Regions from separate parts of the Homo sapiens genome. Here region 2 is linked to region 1. Evidence: fine-mapped expression QTL. Tissue or cell type: whole blood. Region 1 holds a variant in brackets; the other region holds the start of a gene. All regions are shown on one strand. Distances are from middle to middle. Region 1 overlaps PLA1A (phospholipase A1 member A). Region 2 holds the start of POPDC2 (popeye domain cAMP effector 2).

Region 1 (5,379 bases):
CCTGGGTGGAGTAAAGAGAAGGAAAAGGAAAGGAGGGTTTTTGGTTTGAGGCAAAATAGAAAATTGCAAGCCTACATAGCAGGGAACATGTGTATTCTTTAGACATGACTGTGATCATGCAGACAGTTAAACATCTTCGTGAGCCTCACCTGTCCTTTTGGTTGCATTTCCAAGGCCTGGACAAAGGCCGAAGCTCTCTCAGTGCCCTGGCTGACTTGGCCCAGATGAAGTAATTGCAGCCTGTTGCTTACATCATTCTCCCTGTCTTCATTGTGGAGAGTGAATCAGCAAGTCAGCAGTTTCCTTTTAAAGCTCATTTATTTATGTTTTTTAAAAAGTGAATTTAAAGAATAAAAGAATCCGAGGCAACCTGGATTTGGGAAAGTGGTGAAGGCGTGTGCCATATCTGTTAGTTCCGCACCCCCTTCCCATCCACTCTCCAACCTTCTCTGTCCTGCTGTATGCCCCGGGCCTGGTTAGGCCATGTCAATGTGTTATTTGTCCTCTGGCTTCTGTTGGGGGTCCTTAATGGGGAGCACTAGCAGGAAAATGGGAGAGGAAGAAGAGTGAAGTCAGAGAACCTGTGCTTCTGCTCCCTCCCTGCGGGGTTGCTGCTGGCTGGCTGTGTCCCTGCACTGCAGGTCTGCAGCCTTCTGGTGCTTCCCCTCCTTCTCTGGCCTCTTCACAGGTAGGGTAGTAGCAGCTTCTACTGCCAGTAGCTTCAGGGAACTGCATTATCCCTGTGGTTGCCCCACAAAAGACTATGGCAAATTGTCCTTTTCTTAAATTCTCCTCAAATAACCCAGATTGAGCGCACCATCTGTTTTTTGCTGGGCTGCGGCTGATACAAGGTTATTTACAAAGATCAAAGTTTGGGAAACACTAACCCAGAGGAAATCTACCTGTATTCCCCAAGATCTCTCTGATCCCTCAAACCTTCCAGATATCCAGAGGAGGTAATGGTAAGGGTTGGTAAATGGTGCCATCTTCCTCCCTACCCTTCATCCCCTCTCTTTTTCCAAGTACTTCTTTTAGTTGCTATTTTAATACCGATAATGCAATACTGTTTTCTCCAATCCCACAGAGTATAAATCTCAACTTTTTGTAGGTAACAGAATTCCATTCAAGTAAAACAATTAAATGATTCAGATACTCCATGAAGTTTTATTTTTAAAAAATTGTTTACCCTGTACATGTTTCTATTGAATCCTAAGTACGAATGCCCAAGGAGATAAAGCAAGTGCAGTTAAGTATGCATGGGAAAGCTAAAATGGGTATGTACATAAGATCGGCAAAGGAAACCAAGTTCTGTAAAATGAGTTCTCCCTCCCCTCCAGGGTAGCTGATTATGAGGAAAATAAGAAAGAGCTTTGCTTTTCTCCTTAGTAGTAATGGTCTACAATAAGCTGCACACACACATCCCTCATCACACCTCTCTCTCAAAAAAAAAAAAAAAATGCAGGGAGATGTGTCCTGCCCAGGTTAAACTACACACAGGCTATCTTCAGGTCACAGGAAACAGTCACACTTGCTTGTAAGTTCACTGGTTCAGGTAAGCAGACCATCTTTTCTCTGGAAGAGAAGAGCAATAAGAGAGCAGTGGCTGGTGAGGAGACAGGGCTTGGCATTGTGTGGCTTTTGAATTCCCATGATGTCTGGTGAAAGAAATCTGCAATCACCTACAATTAAGAGCCAGTTCCTGTGGTCCAAGTGCCCAGGGGTGGTAAGGTTAATGACATAAATGCCTTTAGAGGAAGGGAAAGGGGATGTGGATTCTGGATCCACACCCATGAATGTGACCCATGACACAGTTGGAGTGGAGGCCACAGAGGAGAAAATATGCAATGAGAAAACTTTGTTCTAATAAAATCTTACATAGAAACCAAATATGCAGAACAAATACAGTGGAATTTCCCCAACCCAAGATGGTCCCACAGGAGGTTCTGGAAAACACCGGGTGTCTGTCATCTCTGCTTCTAAGATGATAATCACTATGATGAGATTGAACCTCAATAGGCAGCACATCTAATGCCAAGACTGGTCTTTGATGTGTGAGTGCATCTGGTGCAGAGGTGAATACTGGGGCTTACCTGTCATTGACAGGCAAAAGGGCAGTGCAGAACTTCCCAATAATGGTAGTCCGGTCTTTTTTCCAAACTCGGTTGGAAGACTGAAACTTGAATTTCACTTGGTTTATCTGGCATTGTGGGGTGGCATGGGCTATGATTCCTTTCCCATAGCGTTGCTGCTTAGGTCTGCAAGAAAAGGGTAAAGGGAAAGTAAATGACTGTAGCCCTTACCACCTGTACTTCCCCTTTGGCTCCGATCGGGCTCTGCTGGTGGCACTGGTTGGCTGTCATGCACCAAGGGGTTAGCTCCTTACCACAGTCCTTTGTGTCACCTTCACCAGCCCCTCTGCCCACACCTACAGCTTTGAATATGACCAAGAAAGTAGTTGTTGATTTTTTAGAATAAACAAGTGGACACTGCAACAAAATAGTAGCTCCTGGATTTTCATATCTGGAAAAACTGTTCCTCGTTCTTGGATTCCTAGCTGGAGGAGATCTTCACCTTCAGATCTAATTACCCAGAAGTAGAAACCCTCTTTTAGGACATTCCTTTTCAAAGAATTCTGTGTAAGGACTTTTCTGTTTTAGGCTAAGTATGAATGTGTGGGTGGAAACAGCAACAAGAAAACATCATGAAGCGCAGACAGAGTTGGGTGGAACCCAGGTTTGTCTTCCCAGCTGTATGGCTTTGGACAAGTTACCTAAGCTGGCAAGGTGGCTGTGGAGTCACATAGCAACTAGGTGTAAGTTCCAGCTTCCCTACATGCTGCTATGAACTTGAACCGTAGGGTTTGGTTCATACTGACTTCAGCTGAGGAGACTCAGAGTGAAAATGGCATCCAGTTCTGTCTTAACCCAGCCTCTTGGCTTTGCCCCCCCAGATTCCCTTTATGTTTAAAGATTCAGGCACCACTTTGGACTGAGACAAAGATGAGGGAGGAGTATGAAGTGATCAACCTAGCAGGGTGCTTCCAAAAGGGCTGTGGTACCCCCTAGGTACTAGGTACTGGAGACAAAAGCAAAAAATCGTGAGATTCAATGAGGAAAGTCTTCACGCTGAGTGCAAGGCACAGCCCAGCCAGCAGATCCTGAGGGTGGTGAGTGGGGGATCAAGGAGGGCGCCCAGCAGAGCTGCACCACCCAGCTAGGGAAGGAATTTGACTTGTGGGGCCCTTTGTGATCCTCCCTGGAATCCAAGTGGGACTCTGAAAAAGAGGAAAGAAGGAGGGCGCTGCGTTCCTCTCGGCGGGGG[C/TC]AGGGGTGGTGTGGGGAACCACCCTTGCCAACTGGGTTTCCTGTTCCTTTCTGGCCTTCGCAGAGTGGTGATAGGGCCTCTTTGTGTTCTTTTTAGTCCAGTGTTAGTCATATCACTTGTTTTTTCCTTCTGAGGGAAGATCATGTATAATTTTGTTTAAAAACCATTCCCTCTTTTTTTAAATTCACAAGTCTTTTGAAATATTACAGAGGGAATAAATAAGATTGTTTCCTTTAAGCTTAGACTGAAGAGTTTGTAAAATACAAGGAATATGAAAAATCTTTTAAGTGAGTGGTTTGGGGAGTTGGCCCAGGTTAATTCTCCAATTAGAAGGAAATCTTAGCGTCGCATAAAGCTATAGAAATTTGGAAAAAGACCACACATAACCTCCCCGTTTTTCCCCCAATTTCTGATCTGCAAGAAGTGAATCATGTTCTGGTGCCTTCTTCAAAAGAGTTATGTGAACCTCTTCATGGAGGAGGAAGCGCTAATCTGTGGATGTTGACTGGAATTACTCGGGGAGCTTTTAAAATGTAGCTGTGGAGCCTATGCCCAGAGACCCTGATGTGATTGGTCTGGGTTGGGGGGCTTGGCGTCAGTATTTTTTAAAGCTCTCCAGGTGATTCTAACGTGCAGTCAGGGTTGTGGGTCATTTTCATGACTCCTGCCAGTGTTGCTGGACCTACCAATGGGCTAGAAGATGATGAAAACACCCTTCTAGAAGTAGCACAACCTTGAGCGGGTCTAATGAAAGGTACTTGGCTTACTGATATCCAGCCACAATCTGCAAGGCTCTGTGGGCACCTGCAGGCCTGTGCTGGAATCCTGATGGCTGTACCTAGCTGTGTGACTTTGGGTGAGCCAGAAGGAACACCAGCTAGTGGCCACGGTTTTGGGAGTGAAATGCACTCCTTCCAGCAGAAACTTGTAGTGCCTCACAGCAGAGTTCATGTCCAACATCCCAACCCGAGAAATATCTCCAAACTCACATCTGATCTCATCACTGTCCTGTTTAAAACTCCCAGTGGCTCTCCAAACTACTCTCAGGATAAAAACCTGTCCTTCAAGGCCTGGCAGGGTCTGGCTCTGACTTGCCTCTCCAGCCTCACAGCATCCCCACAACCCCAAATCTGTGCTCCAGACACACCAGAGGTGTCACATTCTCTCTAAGCCTGGCCTGGGTAGCTCCTGGAAAGCCTGCTCATCATTTCCTTGGACTCAGTCAGACTCTGTCTTCTATGCTGTCACTCTCAGGGCATTGCTCACTCATTTAAGTGTGTGTGCACTGGTCATTTCCCTGTTTGCTCTGGACTGATCTATTCCCCTGCAGGTTCCCCCACCAACAGGTTCCAGTGAGGTCTAACCCAGTGGAAGCATGCTCAGGTGGGTGGCTGCTTTGGGCAGGGGTTCCAGAGGGGCCGCACTTCCCATGGGTTCAGCTCCTGCCAAGCAGCCTTCCCTGTGGACCCAGCTTTGCCAACTCCACTCCTGCTTTGTCCCTCTAGCCTAGGGTTGTATTGGCTCCTGTTGTGATTAATCTCTGCATTGTGTCCCCATCTCTGTTTTCCAGCTCATCCAACACACTTGTAATGAGTTCACTGTGCTAAATTCCTTCTCTTGGACCTCCTCTGTTTTCCTGACCGGACTCTCACTGAGACAGTGACATTATCTGACAATCTGTCTCCCGCTGGCTTGTGAATAACTAACCGGTTGCTTTTTAAAGAAGCATGCACCATGGCTGCTGACTTCCTATCCCCTGCAGGCTGTGGCTCCCTACAGTTGGGGTTCCTTGCCCTCTCACTTCAAGCGTAGTCCCACCAGCCCCCAAGCCCAAGTCTGCCCCAACAAAGGAAGGGAATGACTACCCCCAGTTTCAGGAATCACCCAGCACCAAGCCCTCCTGGCCGCTAGTCTGGCCCTCAGCTCGCACTCCGTTGCTGACTGACCCTGTGCCTCAGATTCCATTCTGGTAACTGACCCAGAACTGCTCTCCTTTCCCAGGAGTGGGTGCTCTCCAGGCTCTGGCTAGCCCTTCCTGGGCTGGTGACTGAGGCCCTC
Region 2 (5,379 bases), 32 kb before region 1:
TCTGTGATAGAAGGATGAGCAGCTGCTGCTTGTTAAAGTAGGGGGGTTGTTTGGGAGGCAGGCAAGTGATGTAAAAACAGTATATGGAAATCCCCAAACCCCACTGTTAAAATGATGTCAGGGGTCCAAATCATGTCCATGGAGTGACCTCAGTGACATTTCTTCTCCAAATACTCTAGCTCTTTACTGATTTTTTTCCTCTTAACTTAGAAAGGAGGAAATAAGGTATATATTTGTTGGTCAGATGATTTTAATGAGGTTAAGAAAAAACTGGCTTCCTTCAACATGCCATGCATTTTCATGCCTCTGTGCCCGTGCTTCTGCTGTTCTCACCACTAGAAATGCTGTTCTCCCCACTAGAAATGCTATTCTCCCTCTACCTGCCTGGTGAATTCAACCCCTAAACCTCAAATTAGAGGCCAGCCCTTCTTTGCATCTTCCCTCCCTGATGCCACCCTTCCTTCTAGGCTGCCACCATCCTTCAAAGTTAACTTGGTTGTTGTGCTTCACATACTGAACTGCCTTTGTTTTTTGAGGTCTCTTTACCCTAACAGGGTGAAAGTTTCTCTTGAGGATCTTTGATGCCCAAGGGCTTAGCTCATAAAAGGCACTCAATAAATATTTGTTGAGTGAAAACATCTCCTTCTCACCATATTTGACAATTTTGAATTTCTCATAAATTTTCATCAAGTTATAGCAGTATAGTAAAAGTCCTTATGAATTGAGTCCTTGATTAGTTCTGGGAGGTTACTGAGCACCCCGCCTGTACTTCAGGGGCGATAGGAGTAATGGGAGTAAGTGCTAACCCAGCAGCAGGGAGGAAGAATCAAGGAGTCATTTGGAATCCAGAGAGTCACATTTCTTTTTCTTTCTTTCTTTCTTTCTTTCTTTCTTTCTTTCTTTCTTTCTTTCTTTCTTTCTTTCTTTCTTTCTTTCTTTCCTTCCTTCCTTCCTTCCTTCCTTCCTTCTTTCCTTCTTTCTTCTCCTTCCTTTTTTTTTTTTTTTTGACAGAATCTTGCTCTGTCACCCAGGCTAGAATGCAGTGGCACAATTTTGGCTCACCACAGCCTCTGACTCCCAGGTTCAAGAGATTCTTGTGCCTCAGCCTCCCCAGTAGCTGAGACTACAGGTGCCCGCCACCACGCCCAGCTAATTTTTATACTTTTAGTAGAGACAGGGTTTCCACCATGTTGGCCAGGCTGGTCTCGAACTCCAGCCTCACTCAGGTGATCCACCCGCCTCAGCCTCCCAAAGTGCTGCGATTATAGGCGTAAGCCACTGTGCCCAACTAACATTTCTTAGCCTAATGTTTGCATACTCCAGCTTTATCTCTTGGCAGCCCAAAGTAGATTCCTAGGTTCAACCAGAAGTTCCTTGAAAATTGTCAGACTTCATAGAAGTGTGGAGTTGGGAGTCATGGATCTAGTACTGTACTTCCACTTACTGGCAAACCCCTTGGGACAGAGTATTAAGTTTGACAGACTTGGGTTCAAATCCTGGCTCTGCCACTTAGACCATCTGTGGGAGCTTGTTACCTCTCTGAGCCTCAGTTTCTTCCAGATCTAGAAGGAGAATAATATTTATTTTGAAGGATTGTTGTCACAACTAACTTATAAGTGTATAAAATGCCTAATCTAGGTTTGGCACTTCATGGGTGTTTAATAGGTGGGAATTATAATTTGGAAGCACCGGAGTGGGTGGGATGATGATCTGGGCAATGTATTATTATTTGTTTACTATTACCAGATCCAGATATATGCAGGGGAAAGCCAGCTTAGAATTCAAAAAGCCACTTTACATAGCTACTTTTGTTAAATGGATGTCAAATAAATACATAATGATATTTGCAGTGTGACTTAATAAAGGCCTTCAGGGGGTTTTCCAGCTTTCACTGTTAGGATTTTTTCTGATAATAGTCCCATACTTTCCTACTCTGATGTGTCCTCACTCAGAAGCACTGTCTGGCTCTCCCCAAAGGGAGCTCGGGACAGTTTCCTGCCTGAGGTGTTCAGGTGAATTCTGTGCTCACTTTTCCTTTCTCTCTCCTTGTCTGTCTCTCTGACCCTGAGGTCTTATCTTGTCCTCTGGGAGGTATGTTAAGTGCTCTGCCAGGCTGCCTGTGCCTGGCCTGTTTTTTCTCACTGCCAGTACCTCTTGGATTCCAATTCCAAACATGGTATCCATCTGGGGTCACCCTTTCTTCCGGTGCCAAGAGAGAACACATTCCAAATGGAACACAAATGTGCCTCCCATGCTGGCTCTCCTCATTCTGCTTGGGAAAAACAGAGAGCAGGATGTGGCCGCATCATCCCACGCTGCTGGACTTTTCAGTCCTGTAGTGCTACTTTCCCTTGGGACTATTTAGGTTTTTCTGCTAAGAACCAAATTTGAAGACTCCCAAGAAACATGGAACCAAGGAAGCTTGCCAGAGCTCTGCAGGGAGAGCCAGAGCCTTGCTGAGACAGCGGGGGTGGTGGGGAGGAGAGAGGGGGGGAGAGGGGGAGAGAGAGAGAGAGAGAGAAAGAGGTTTTTAAATTCTCCATGAAGTGTACTATGTTCCATCATTCCTTCCCAAAGCCACCGGAAGCATTCCTTCTAGGAAAGGTGGAGTCGGTAGTGAGAAGCCGGAGGTGAGAAGACCCCTGAGCGGATGGATTCATTCATTTTCTGAATTTCCTATGTGAGGACAGTATTAGAGCCCAGTGAGGCTTTGAGAGGCCCCAAAGATGAGCGCCAACAGCAGCAGAGTGGGCCAGCTTCTCTTGCAGGGTTCAGCGTGCATTAGGTGGAAGCAGGATGTGGAAGGGGCTGTCTACCACCTAGCCAACTGCCTCTTACTCCTGGGCTTCATGGGGGGCAGTGGGGTGTATGGATGCTTCTATCTTTTTGGCTTCCTGAGTGCAGGTTACCTGTGCTGCGTGCTGTGGGGCTGGTTCAGTGCCTGTGGCCTGGACATTGTTCTTTGGAGCTTCCTGCTGGCTGTGGTCTGCCTGCTCCAGCTGGCACACCTGGTATACCGCCTGCGTGAGGACACCCTCCCTGAGGAGTTTGACCTCCTCTACAAGACGCTGTGCCTGCCCTTGCAGGTGCCCCTACAGACATACAAGGAGATTGTTCACTGCTGCGAGGAGCAGGTCTTAACTCTGGCCACTGAACAGACCTATGCTGTGGAGGGTGAGACACCCATCAACCGCCTGTCCCTGCTGCTCTCTGGCCGGTAAGCTACTCTATCCATTGCCCAGAATTTCTTTCCCCAGCCCACACTTCTCATTTCCTAGTGTGTCCCTTTCCATTTCATGTCCCTTTCCATTTCGTGTCCCCTTCCATTGAGGGAAGGATGTGACAAGTCAAACAAACCAAAATAGATTTTTCTAAGAGTGGGGTTGCTTCCTCTTTCTTGGCATTTTCCAAGAAGAAACCAGTTCATGAGGCATCTTGGTTGGCAAGAATGATTGTATGTGCACTTGCTGCTGGAAGGTGTGCAGTGCGTGTGTCTTGAGCCTGGGCCTTAAATAACCCCTCTACCATCACCACACACATATCAGTGTGTCATGCCTAAGCTGCAGCAATATCTCTGTAAGCTTTGAAAAACTAACATTTCAATAAGGTTAATCTGTTCCTTACTCAAATTCAACATTTGCTAAGCACCAACTGTATTCAGGGAACAATGCCAGAAATGGGAGGTCGGGATAGCGGGGTGGTTCTCATAACCCCTGTTCCCTGCCAAGGCATCAAGCAAACAGCCCCACTTGTGTTTGGGGTAGCTGTATGTAGCCAGGTAGGGAGAGTGAATACCCCTTGCCCACCTTTCCATTTCCAGTTGTTCTATTGAGGTTCTTGAAGACTAAGAAGTCAAGTACAGTACTGTAAATCTGAGGGCCCAACAATGGGAGAAGAGAAGTGATACACCTATCTCATCAAGGCTTTTGTGGAAGCACCGCCTCTTTTGGAGAAGGCTGACAGTCAGATATGGGCAGAAATGGTCTTAGTCAGGATCAGTGTATGCCCAGTCAACCTGGATGTGAATGTTGGGCATTGATTTCTTCTGAGAAAACATCACGGGGCTCTGTGCTACACACTTAGTAGGCAATTGTGGATTTTTTTATACTGCCCTAGTGGCTCTTGAGCCCCACAACCCCCACTCCACCAGCTTTCTTGAGACCAGGAGAATGTGATAGAAAAGGTAAGATGGCAATTAGAAGGCTCCAATTCCAAGAAAAAAAAAAAAAAAAAGCAAATCCAGATAATACTGCCAACCACACAATGGAGAAAAAAGTTTGACAATGATGCTAATGGTACTACAACTACCACTAATAGTAATAATACGTGTTTGTGTATTCATTTATAGAACCTGAAGTATCATGTATATATGTTTTGATTTTGTTTGAACTCAGAGGTCCTGGATAGAGTGAGCTAGGAGGGGAGACATTTTGTGAGGGTACATTTCATTTCATTTATTGGTGAACTGAAAGTGTAAACCAATGCGATTATTTGTAAACAGATATAGATGTAAATACAAATACATATAACTATTGTGAAAATGTTTGCACCTATAGTTCCATGCTTAAAGACAATTTAGGGAACTTGCTCATTCATGAGACCCATGATGTTATAGCTCGTCTGTTCAAAGGAGGAAATTGAGAGCAGCAGAAGTGCTCCCTCCAGTGTAGGGTGCCCATTTGCTGGAAGCATGTATGGTTACTGTATAGTTCAGTTAGGATAGATTTACTGTGAACTTGTATAAGATCACTTCCCAGTGAAGGGGAGAGGGGGGCTTGCCCTTGGTGTAGCTTTTCCTGGTATACTTAGCATCAAAAGGCTGAGTCAGAAATTAGACAATTTTGATTTTTTTTTTTCCTGCCTTTCAAGGTTTGGAGTAAGAGTTTTGTTATCTTTCAGTGTCACCCTGTCTCAGCTTTGCTGAGCTGGACATAGAGGAAAAGGCTTCTAGTCTATGACTGGGCTCTAGTTTTAAAGGAGAATCACTGAACCTTGGGCTGGTTACAGTAAGGGACCAAACATCTCAAAGCAGCAGACAAGAACTTTGTGCCAGGAAGTGGGGACTCTTGTGCAGACTTCCACATCTCACATGCACACTGTTCTCTAGAGTCCTTCACTCAAACCTCAGAAGTCTTTTTGTTTTGTTTTAATAAAGGAAACCAATCTCTTTCAAAACTCAGAGAGGGAAAGTGACTTTCTCAAAGTCTATCACCCTGTTAAGCAGCGCTTAACTTAGACGTTTCTCTCATATAAAATTCAAAACACAAACTTCCATATATACAACCCCCTGAGCAGGCAACTAACTATCTAAGCTATTCATTTAGGAGAAGATCATCCATCTTCCAGTAGATCAAGAAGGAAGAAGAAACAGATGATAAA

The links. PIP is the estimated chance that this variant, and not a neighbour inherited with it, causes the effect.
Region 2: POPDC2 starts here. The variant in region 1 is the best candidate, but not a certain one, in a credible set for the expression of POPDC2 in whole blood (TOPMed, PIP 0.55).

Annotation. Positions count from the first base shown.
Region 1 is chr3:119,625,577-119,630,955 of GRCh38, reverse strand. PLA1A (phospholipase A1 member A) reads right to left here. Exons shown (of 11, transcript NM_015900.4): 10 at 2,091-2,255; 11 at 1,145-1,572. The coding sequence ends at 1,488. Among named protein-coding and RNA genes, the nearest start is that of PLA1A, 30 kb to the right of the region's middle. The variant C/TC (reference allele first, on the strand shown) is at 3,322.
Region 2 is chr3:119,657,771-119,663,149 of GRCh38, reverse strand. It overlaps POPDC2 (popeye domain cAMP effector 2), which reads left to right and starts at 2,561. Exons shown (of 4, transcript NM_001369919.2): 1 at 2,561-3,217. The coding sequence starts at 2,727. RefSeq lists an enhancer at 257-306.